Regions from separate parts of the Homo sapiens genome. Here region 2 is linked to region 1. The links come from fine-mapping of genetic effects on gene expression. A gene starts in region 1. The other region holds a variant in brackets. All regions are shown on one strand. Distances are from middle to middle.

What was found. PIP is the estimated chance that this variant, and not a neighbour inherited with it, causes the effect. A credible set is the group of variants that fine-mapping cannot tell apart.
Region 2: its variant is the best candidate, but not a certain one, in a credible set for the expression of NAA20 in whole blood (INTERVAL, PIP 0.63).

Annotation. Positions count from the first base shown.
Region 1 is chr20:20,015,065-20,019,459 of GRCh38, reverse strand. NAA20 (N-alpha-acetyltransferase 20, NatB catalytic subunit) reads right to left here and starts at 2,098. Exons shown (of 6, transcript NM_016100.5): 1 at 2,011-2,098. The coding sequence starts at 2,063. RefSeq lists enhancers at 1-835, 1,297-1,797, 2,412-2,591 and silencers at 1,852-1,971, 2,022-2,091.
Region 2 is chr20:20,039,033-20,043,427 of GRCh38, reverse strand. It overlaps CRNKL1 (crooked neck pre-mRNA splicing factor 1), which reads left to right. Exons shown (of 14, transcript NM_001278628.2): 8 at 912-1,103; 9 at 1,803-1,862; 10 at 2,662-2,742; 11 at 3,580-3,819. Among named protein-coding and RNA genes, the nearest start is that of CRNKL1, 11 kb to the left of the region's middle. The variant A/G (reference allele first, on the strand shown) is at 2,771.

The DNA.
Region 1 (4,395 bases):
CCTTTCCTAGATCTTCAGTTAAAACTGATTCTCCATGAGGCTCTGCCTTTTCTTGAAGCTTCAAGGCACCCTGTCACCTCCCATGCTGCACCTCCCAAACTGAAGCCTCTGTCAAGTCATCGTCTCTGGGCCACTGCCAAGGCCTCCTGAATGGCTTACCTGCCCAGTTTACCTGCTGTCATCACATGACAGCCCACAGAGCTCAGTGGTTAAGAATTTGAATCCATCACCTGGATTCTACAGTGAACACTTTGCTACACTGGCTTCATCATTTCTCTCTGCCCACCTATCAATCCTAGATCCACTTTTAAAAACAACAGGGCAGTAAGTGAAAACGAAAAACCAAGTGGTTCCGATTCAAGGGTCAGGAGGATAGAAAGGACTATGGGATGAGATGGCTGGGAACACTTTAAAGAGAGGGTGAGCCTCTCCAGAGGCTCCAGGTGGGTTAAGACCCACTCCAGAGCAGTGGATCGCAAACGGAATGTGCGTTTCTAACATGGTCCCCTGACCACAGGCACCAAGTCTTTCAGAACCACTGCTCCAGAGCCAATATCCTTGGATGAAGTTCCTCGCTTTACTCATTCTCACCTGGGCCAATTCACTTGTGCTTGCCATGCCTTGGTTTACTCATACACAAAATGGGGGTGACAGCACCTCAAAGAATCGTGAGGATTAACTGGATTATTACGTGGGCACTCAGAACAATGCAGGGAACAGTGAGTTCAACACAAGTCACCGTAGCTACCAGACTGGCCCAACAGAAAATTCTTTCCACAGGATCAAGTCTAAACCCCTCCTGTTTCACCCATTTCTTCCTGACTGCTCAGTGGCAGAAACCAGCCACTAGATTCGCACTGATCCCAGTTGTCTGACCGCACTTCAAGTTTCCCCATTTTCATGCCCCGCTCCTTCTCCGGAACTTCCGTCTTCCTCACTTACCAATGTGTTATCCATCTTCAAGGCTCACCCCCTCTTTGAAATGTTCCCAGCCATCTTATCCCATAGTTCTTTCCATCTTCCTGACACTTGAATCGGAACCACTTTGTCCTTAGTTTTCACATACCGCCCTGTTGTTTTTTTAAAGTGGATCCAGGACTGATAGATGGGAAGGAAGGAGAGATACCAGCGTAGCAAAATGTTAACTGCAGAATCCAGGAAAAGTGTCTATAAAAGCACATGGTGAAATTCCTCCAACTTTTCTAAATGTGTGGGAATCTTCATAATAAAATGTTTTCTTAAAAAAAAAAAATTGGTACCTGCAAATCAGAGGTCTGGCCTTAACTCGAATCCAAAGAAACTGCATCCAGGGCTCTGGGCACAGCGAGCCTCCCCTAAGATCTGCCGTGACTCCTCACAGAGGAAAGGTGTGTACACCGGGGTGCGCAGCTACAGTAACTAAACTTGCAAACACTAACCATGACTGAGACAGCATCTGCTGCAGGGGACGCAGTGATCAGTGTCATTTCATTTGGATACAATTTAACCACGGCCACCAGGTGGGCTTCACGATGTACACATCCCAACAGCTGCTGACCAGCTTCCGATCCTCGCAAGCCCCCTCTGCGGCCTGGCCGTCGGCGGTGCCCTCTGCCCAGAAGAGGCGCGGCCCGGCCACGAACCAGCAAGCAGTAGGGCAGGGCGAGAAGCCCAGGTCGTGGGCTCCAGGCCGCGTCTCCAGCTCGCCCCATCACCCCAGCGCCTCCTGACAGCGACCACGAGCGGAGGCCCGAGCGCTGCCCCAGAACCTGCCAGCTCGCAGGGTCCAGAGACAAAGTTTGAGCACCTCGGCCAAGGTCGCCAAGGCCGGCGTGCGTCGACTCCAGGCCCACCTCTCCCTGGACCCTGTGGCCCCAGGGAGGCGCCCACGTTGGCCGGCGGGGGGTGGTTCTCGCGGGTCCCCGTCCGGGCTTGGGGTCCGGCCGGGAAGGCGCGGCTGGGGCCGGAGCTGGCGGGGCCGGGAAGCGAGGCCCGGCCAAGAGCGGCTGGCCCTAGGCGCGTGTCACTCACATGTTGTTGAAGCGGAACAGGTCGTCGCAGGTAAAGGCCCGTAGCGTGGTCATCGCGCCGCCGCCGCTTCCGAAGACCGTTCGCCAAGACCCCGCGCCCGCCCTGCCGGAAGTCTCCCGGAGCGTGGCCGCCGCGGAACCGAGCGAGACGGGGTACTGCTTCCGGGCTACGAGTTGCTGGGCAACGACAGCAGCAAAGCAGCTTCCTCTGGCGGCCGGCGGCGGGAATTGCCAGGTCGCTCCTGTAAGGCCTCCGGGGCTGTGGCTGCCCAGAACCTCGGAACCCCTCCCAGGCAGCGGCTGCAGAAAGCAGGCGGCGACACCTGGGAAGGAAAGAAGCTGCTGGTGATGCGGAAACCCAAGCAGAAGAGCGGAGTTCGCAGCCACCCGGTGCTGCAGAGTAAATGAGGAATGGGAGAATTTATGACCCAGAATCCCTTGTCCCAGTGTTGCGAGTTGCAGATGTCATCTTAAAATGTCAATACCACGTTTAAAAACAAAAAGAAGGCCGGGCGCGGTGGCTCACGCCTGTAATCCCAACACTGGGAGGCCAAGGCGGGCAGATCACTTGAGTTCAGCAGTTCGAGACCAACCTGGCCAACATGGCGAAACCCCCTCTCTACTAAAAAAAAAAAAAAAAGGAAAGAAATAAAAATTAGCTGGGCGTGGTGGCACGCGCCTCTAATCCCAGCTACTTGGAGGCTGAGGCAGGAGAATCGCTTGAACCCAGGAGGCGGAGGTTGCAGTGAGCCGAGATCTCGCCACTGCACTCCAGCCTGGGCGACAGAGCTAGACTTGGTCTCAAAAATAAATAATAAATAAATAAAAGCAAAACGAAATGTAAAATTGATTTTGATAGTACGCTTTATTTTACCCATTTATTTTTCCTATTTGGGAAAAATATTTTTCCCTGACCCCACTTTATTATACCCGAAATATCATTTCAACATGTAACCAATCAATACTCAACATGTAATCAATCAATAAAAAAAGGAATGTGATATGTTACATTCTTTTTTGCAAAGACTTTGAAATCCGGTGTGTATTTTACATTTGCAGTGCATTTCAATCTGAGAGAGCAGCTGTCATCGGAAATGCTTGTTCTCTATTTAGATTTCATCAATGTATGGTTAAAAAGCAGATTCTCATATCCAAGCGGTTCCAAATATACTGTTTTCAAATCGCTGAACCAAACATCAGTTTTTAAATTTAAAGTAGTTAAAATTAAAAGTTAAAAATTCCTTTATTCAGACCAGACACAGTGGCTCACACCTGTAATCCCAGCTACTTGGGAGGCTGAGGTGGGAGGATCATTTGAGCCCGGGAGGTAGAGGTTGCTCTGAGACATGATTGCACCACTGCACTCCAGCCTGGGTGACACACCAAGACCCTGTCTCAAAAAGATAAGATAAAGAGAGATAAAATACATAAAGCAAGCAGGAATGCTGAAATGTATTTACACATGAGTGTTAAACTGGTCAATATCCACAGAGCTGTAATCACTGTCTCTCCTGGGCACTGTATAACACTATGCATTTGTATTTTATGGACAAGAAAAATTTTCATTACTATCAATTTTCCTCAGCTTACAAATTTGTAAAATTTTGTATTGTCAAAGACAATAAAAAGCAGAGAAAACCTGGAAACGTGTACTAAACAGTAATCTTTTTCTGGCCATTTCAAAGTGTTTCATAATTTTTTGTGTGTGACATGAACTAATGTTGATTTGAATTTTGTTCCTTATGAAGTAGTGAAGGTTTTTATAATATTTTTGGCTCTGATTCATTGGTATTATAAACATTAGAAGTTTATAGCTACTTTATGTTTGTATCTAGGTAATGGTGGAATAAACATGATTTTGATTTTTAGAAAAAAACACTGTGGGTTTAACACAAAGGTAGCATTGGAACCCTGCAGAAACTGGATGCTGTAGGCCAGCAGTTTGCAAGCACCGATACGAATTATTATTCCGATTTTGAGGCACAGATCAGAAATATCCTATAGCTACGTGGCCATTCCAACACATGGGGTCAGGGGAACGTGCAGGGCAGTACAGAGAATATCCTGGATATTCACCAGCTGGTTCTCCCTTCTCTCCTGTTTGTCTACTTATTTTTAAACTGTTATCAGTTTCCATTGCTGATTGCCTCCTATGAATTAGCATCTCGAAGGGTGGCCAGTAAGTGCCTAGCAAATATTGATTAAATAGCTGAGTGAAAAAGTGGCACACAGGTTACCCAGAAGATAATGTCATCCTTGGTAGTTTACAAAGAGGGTATTCACATTCTCAACAAAGGTATTTCACCTCTCTTTGCCTCAGTTTCTGTAAAAGGTGCATAATCATAGCACCTACTTCATTGGATTATTATGAAGATTACATGAGTTA
Region 2 (4,395 bases), 24 kb before region 1:
CACTAAAATGAATAATAGCAAGTAGCACTACTAGTGATTACTCTCGTGATGATGTGCCCGTGATCCAATTGGCAGCTATTTCAGACAAGTAGGAATAAACAAGGCTGATAGAAAAGGCAAGCAAACAACACTTGGATTTGCTCTGCCACTTACATGTTGTAAGTCGTTTTGTTGATTGTTGACTGTATGTAGAACTGGAGCAAAAGAAATGTGGAATCCATTCGAGCTCATTGTTGGAAGAAGGTGGAAGAGTCAGAGATTGGTCCAAAAACCTGTTTTGCACATCACCTTTGAGCTTAACTGCCTGAACAAAAGATGTATGCTAGACAGGGTTCCATCGGCATCTCTTTTTCTGTAATGTACTATTTTGATTTCAATTCAAAGAGAGTGTCATTTTCCTTCAGTATTCTGTTGTGTATTTAAAAATACTCTTCCTTAGTCAAGTTAATTAAGATACCTCCAAGCAAAGGACTAAGTCTGTTATTAAATGTGGTGGTAGGTTAGCAAGATATGTTAAAGATGAATTGCTATTAATTGGAAAGGCAAGTTTAACAATTGTGAGCATGATACGATTCTGTTGTTACAGACATAATGATACATAGTCACATATTTAAGCAAATGCATTGGCAAGAATAGGCATCTAATTATTGACTGTCGTGAGAGTGATGGCTATAGATGAAGGAGTCCTTGCTGTGGGACACCTGGCCAGTAATCTATCCTCTGTATTCCTGTTTCTTTTCTATTTATGCAGTCTCAGGGATGGTGTTTTTAAAATGAAAGAACATGTAACATTTAGAAGAAAAGGTGCTAAAATATAGAAAGTCAGCCTGATGCCTTTTTTCAGCTTGCTTAACCTGGCAAGTGCAGCTCTTGGTTTTGTTTTTTATTTATTAAACTGGTTGTCTTTCTAGGCGAATCCACACAATTATGATGCATGGTTTGATTACTTGCGCTTGGTAGAAAGTGACGCAGAAGCTGAAGCCGTGAGAGAAGTCTATGAAAGGGCCATTGCCAATGTCCCACCCATTCAGGAGAAGAGGCACTGGAAGCGCTACATTTATCTTTGGATCAACTATGCACTCTATGAAGAATTGGAGGCAAAGGTGAAAAAACAGAATTATGTGTCAGCTGATAATGGTTTCCTGTCTTCTGTATTCACAGCTCACCTATTGTGGATGTTTGTAATTCTTGAAAGAAGGAAATTTAGTTTTAAATTTTTATAGGCTTCTGTTCATCCATACAGTTATATATTCGCTCTGCAACATTTTAAACCCTCTGTGCTTGTTGTGGCCACACGTGAGGGGCTTTTTTAACTTTGGTTTGATTTTTACTTGAGGCACAACAAGATATCACTTGGAGCTTGAAAGAGAACAGTGAACCAGCCCTTAATTTAGTGAAATATAGTTTCCTGGATTTGCTCATTAATAGGAGTAATTCTGGCTAGATTATGCATTTTTGCTTTTAGCAAAAATCAAGTGGCATTTTCAGAAATCATTTGTATTAACCTTCTGGGTTTGATCTGAGACTATGAAACATCTTTGTTTCTTTCTGCCATCAGGCAAAACGGCTTTCTACAAAGAAGGGCTTAGAAGTTTGGTGGCTATCTTGTTGGTGATTCTTAAACTGAAGTTTCATGGCCGTTCATACTTTAGATCATAAATCAGGGTTTGCAAGTAACAACTTGTGAAACATGCTGTTTTGGGGGTGTACATTTTTACCAATATCAGTAAAATTAGTAACTAGTAAAATGAGTGTTAGCAGCAGACTTCAATATTTTGTGAAAATTTCTTATCCTAATACAGGATCCTGAGAGGACAAGACAGGTGTATCAAGCCTCTTTGGAACTAATTCCTCACAAAAAGGTATGTTTGCTCTAAAGTGTTCCATTTCAAACAGGTCAGAATCCTCTTCTGTTACTTGTGAAGTAATTCAGTGAAATAATATTGATTGATAAAATGCTTCCCTGTCCCACCATGGACAACATAAATAAGACTGAGATATGCTCCTTGCCTCTGAAAACAGCTCACAGACTAGGTTGGAGGACAACCTGCATTGACAAACAAATAATATAAATTCAGAGAAGGCTAGGTAATGTGAATAGTCTGAGTGGAAGGAGAAAGACATCCATGCAGAGAGCACACAACGTGTGCGGGGGACACACAGGCGGGTTTGTTGGTAACAGTGAGTGTGTGCATGCACAGATGAATGTGCCCCTTGTGTAGATGGTTGAGATGTTACCTCCGCCTTGTTTCCCAGCACGAGAAACAAAACGTGTTTCCTTCTGTAGAAGTGTTGACTGAGTTACTTTTCAGAATAGAGGTAGGACATTCTGCCCATATACAAGCATGCCTACAAAACAAAGTCTGTTCTGAGCAGAGGCTACCGTGCCATACAGTACAGTACAGTATCTGGATCATGGTTCTCAGGAGAGGTTACCATGCCATGCAGTACAATATAGTATCTGGATCATGGTATGTGGGTTTCTAACTTTTGTGAAATGAATGTGGTCTTTGCTTGTAAATAAGCAGAGTACATTCCTCTTACTCTGAAGTTTTAGAGAAATCGAATTACCAATGGCTTTGGTTAATTTAAATTAATTTTAATTCAATTTAATTTGGATGAGGCTTTTAAGCTAGATATTTTTGTGCTTTTGTTTTCTAGTTCACATTTGCCAAAATGTGGATACTGTATGCACAGTTTGAAATACGACAGAAGAATCTGTCATTAGCCAGAAGAGCATTGGTAAGTAAAGAAAGGATCAAGATGTCTC[A/G]TCAAGTTCTATGAGAAAGAAATTAAAATCTTGGTGCTTGGAAGTTGTACAGTTCCTACTTTAAAGAGTGACAGAAGTATTATACCTTTATAGCCTGGGACATGTTAGAAAACATGCGTCCTCTGTAAAAACACTGACTAATAATGCGTAAATTATTCTTATTACCTGGGGCAAATTAACATTCTGTTTCAATATTGGAAACTTCTATAGCTACCAGTTACTAAATCTTTCCACAGACTGGAATTAGTAATCTGATCCTGTGCAAACTTTTTGGTGTGTTAAATGCACTTTTAATTGTTCCACTTTTTTTTTCTTTTTTTTTTTTTTGTTTGTTTGGTTTTTTTTTGAGACAGGGTCTCGCTCTGTTCCCCAAGCTGGAATGCAGTAGCGCGATCTTGGCTCACTGCAACCTCTGCCTCCTGGGCGGAAATGATCCTCCCATGTTGGCCTCTCAGAATGCTGGGATTACAGGCATGAGCCACCATGCCTTGTCCTTTTTATTTATAGGAGGTTTTATGCATTTGACATCCCTATTCCCTAGGAGATCCTGAGAAACTTTCAAATCTTATTTTATTTAGTTGCCCAAACAATTCTGGAACACTGCCTCTTGCTGAGTGAATTAGAGGAGTTTCCTTCAGCCTTTTGTCAAGAACCAGTAAACATTGTGATACCACAGAGGGAAAGAATGGTAGGCCATGTTGACTTTGCAAGATTCTTCCTCAGCAGAGAACAGCCTCTAGGGCAGTGCAATAACTGCACAGATTAAATCCACTACAGTATCACAGTGGTCTGGTTATTTTATTTTCCAGGGAACTTCCATAGGCAAATGTCCAAAGAACAAATTATTTAAAGTTTACATAGAATTGGAGCTACAGCTTCGAGAATTTGACAGATGCCGGAAGCTTTATGAAAAGTTCCTGGAATTTGGACCTGAAAATTGTACCTCATGGATTAAATTCGCTGAATTAGAGACAATCCTTGGTGATATTGACAGAGCACGGGCAATCTATGAATTAGCCATCAGTCAGCCACGTTTAGACATGCCAGAGGTGAGCATCTCAAGTCAAATATAATTTTGTTTGAGATACGTGTTTAGTCTTACTTTAGATGACCATCTAAATGTGGGTGTATTTTAGAGTATAACGATGATCTAACTAACTTAGTCTCTTCTACTCAGATTAGGCTTGTACGTGGAAAGGTGGCTGTGGGGGACAGGGGAAGTAGCCCTCTCATTAGATACCAGAGCAGTAGACATCCAGGATGATGCCCAGGATGAACTGGGATATCATGGGGGTGGGTGACGCCCCTTCTGCAGCAGGAAAGCCTAAAGGGGCTGGGGAAGAGGCCAGGCAAGGAAGAAGCCAGCAGGCTGGCCCACCCGGAGAACGAGGGGGATGGAGGTAGGAACTGCACATCCCTGTATTCTCTAAACCAGGATGTCCTTGCAACTTCTGTTGTCACTGTCCTGAAAGTCCTCGCCTGCCTTCAGTAGTTAAGCTTGACCCACAAGGTAGCACCAAACCACAGCTAGGAAAGATTTGAATCTCACATGAGTCGTAGAACTCACCCAGCCGTTTTGTTAATCTCATGCACTAACATGACCCTGCATTTAATGGTTTGGCCCC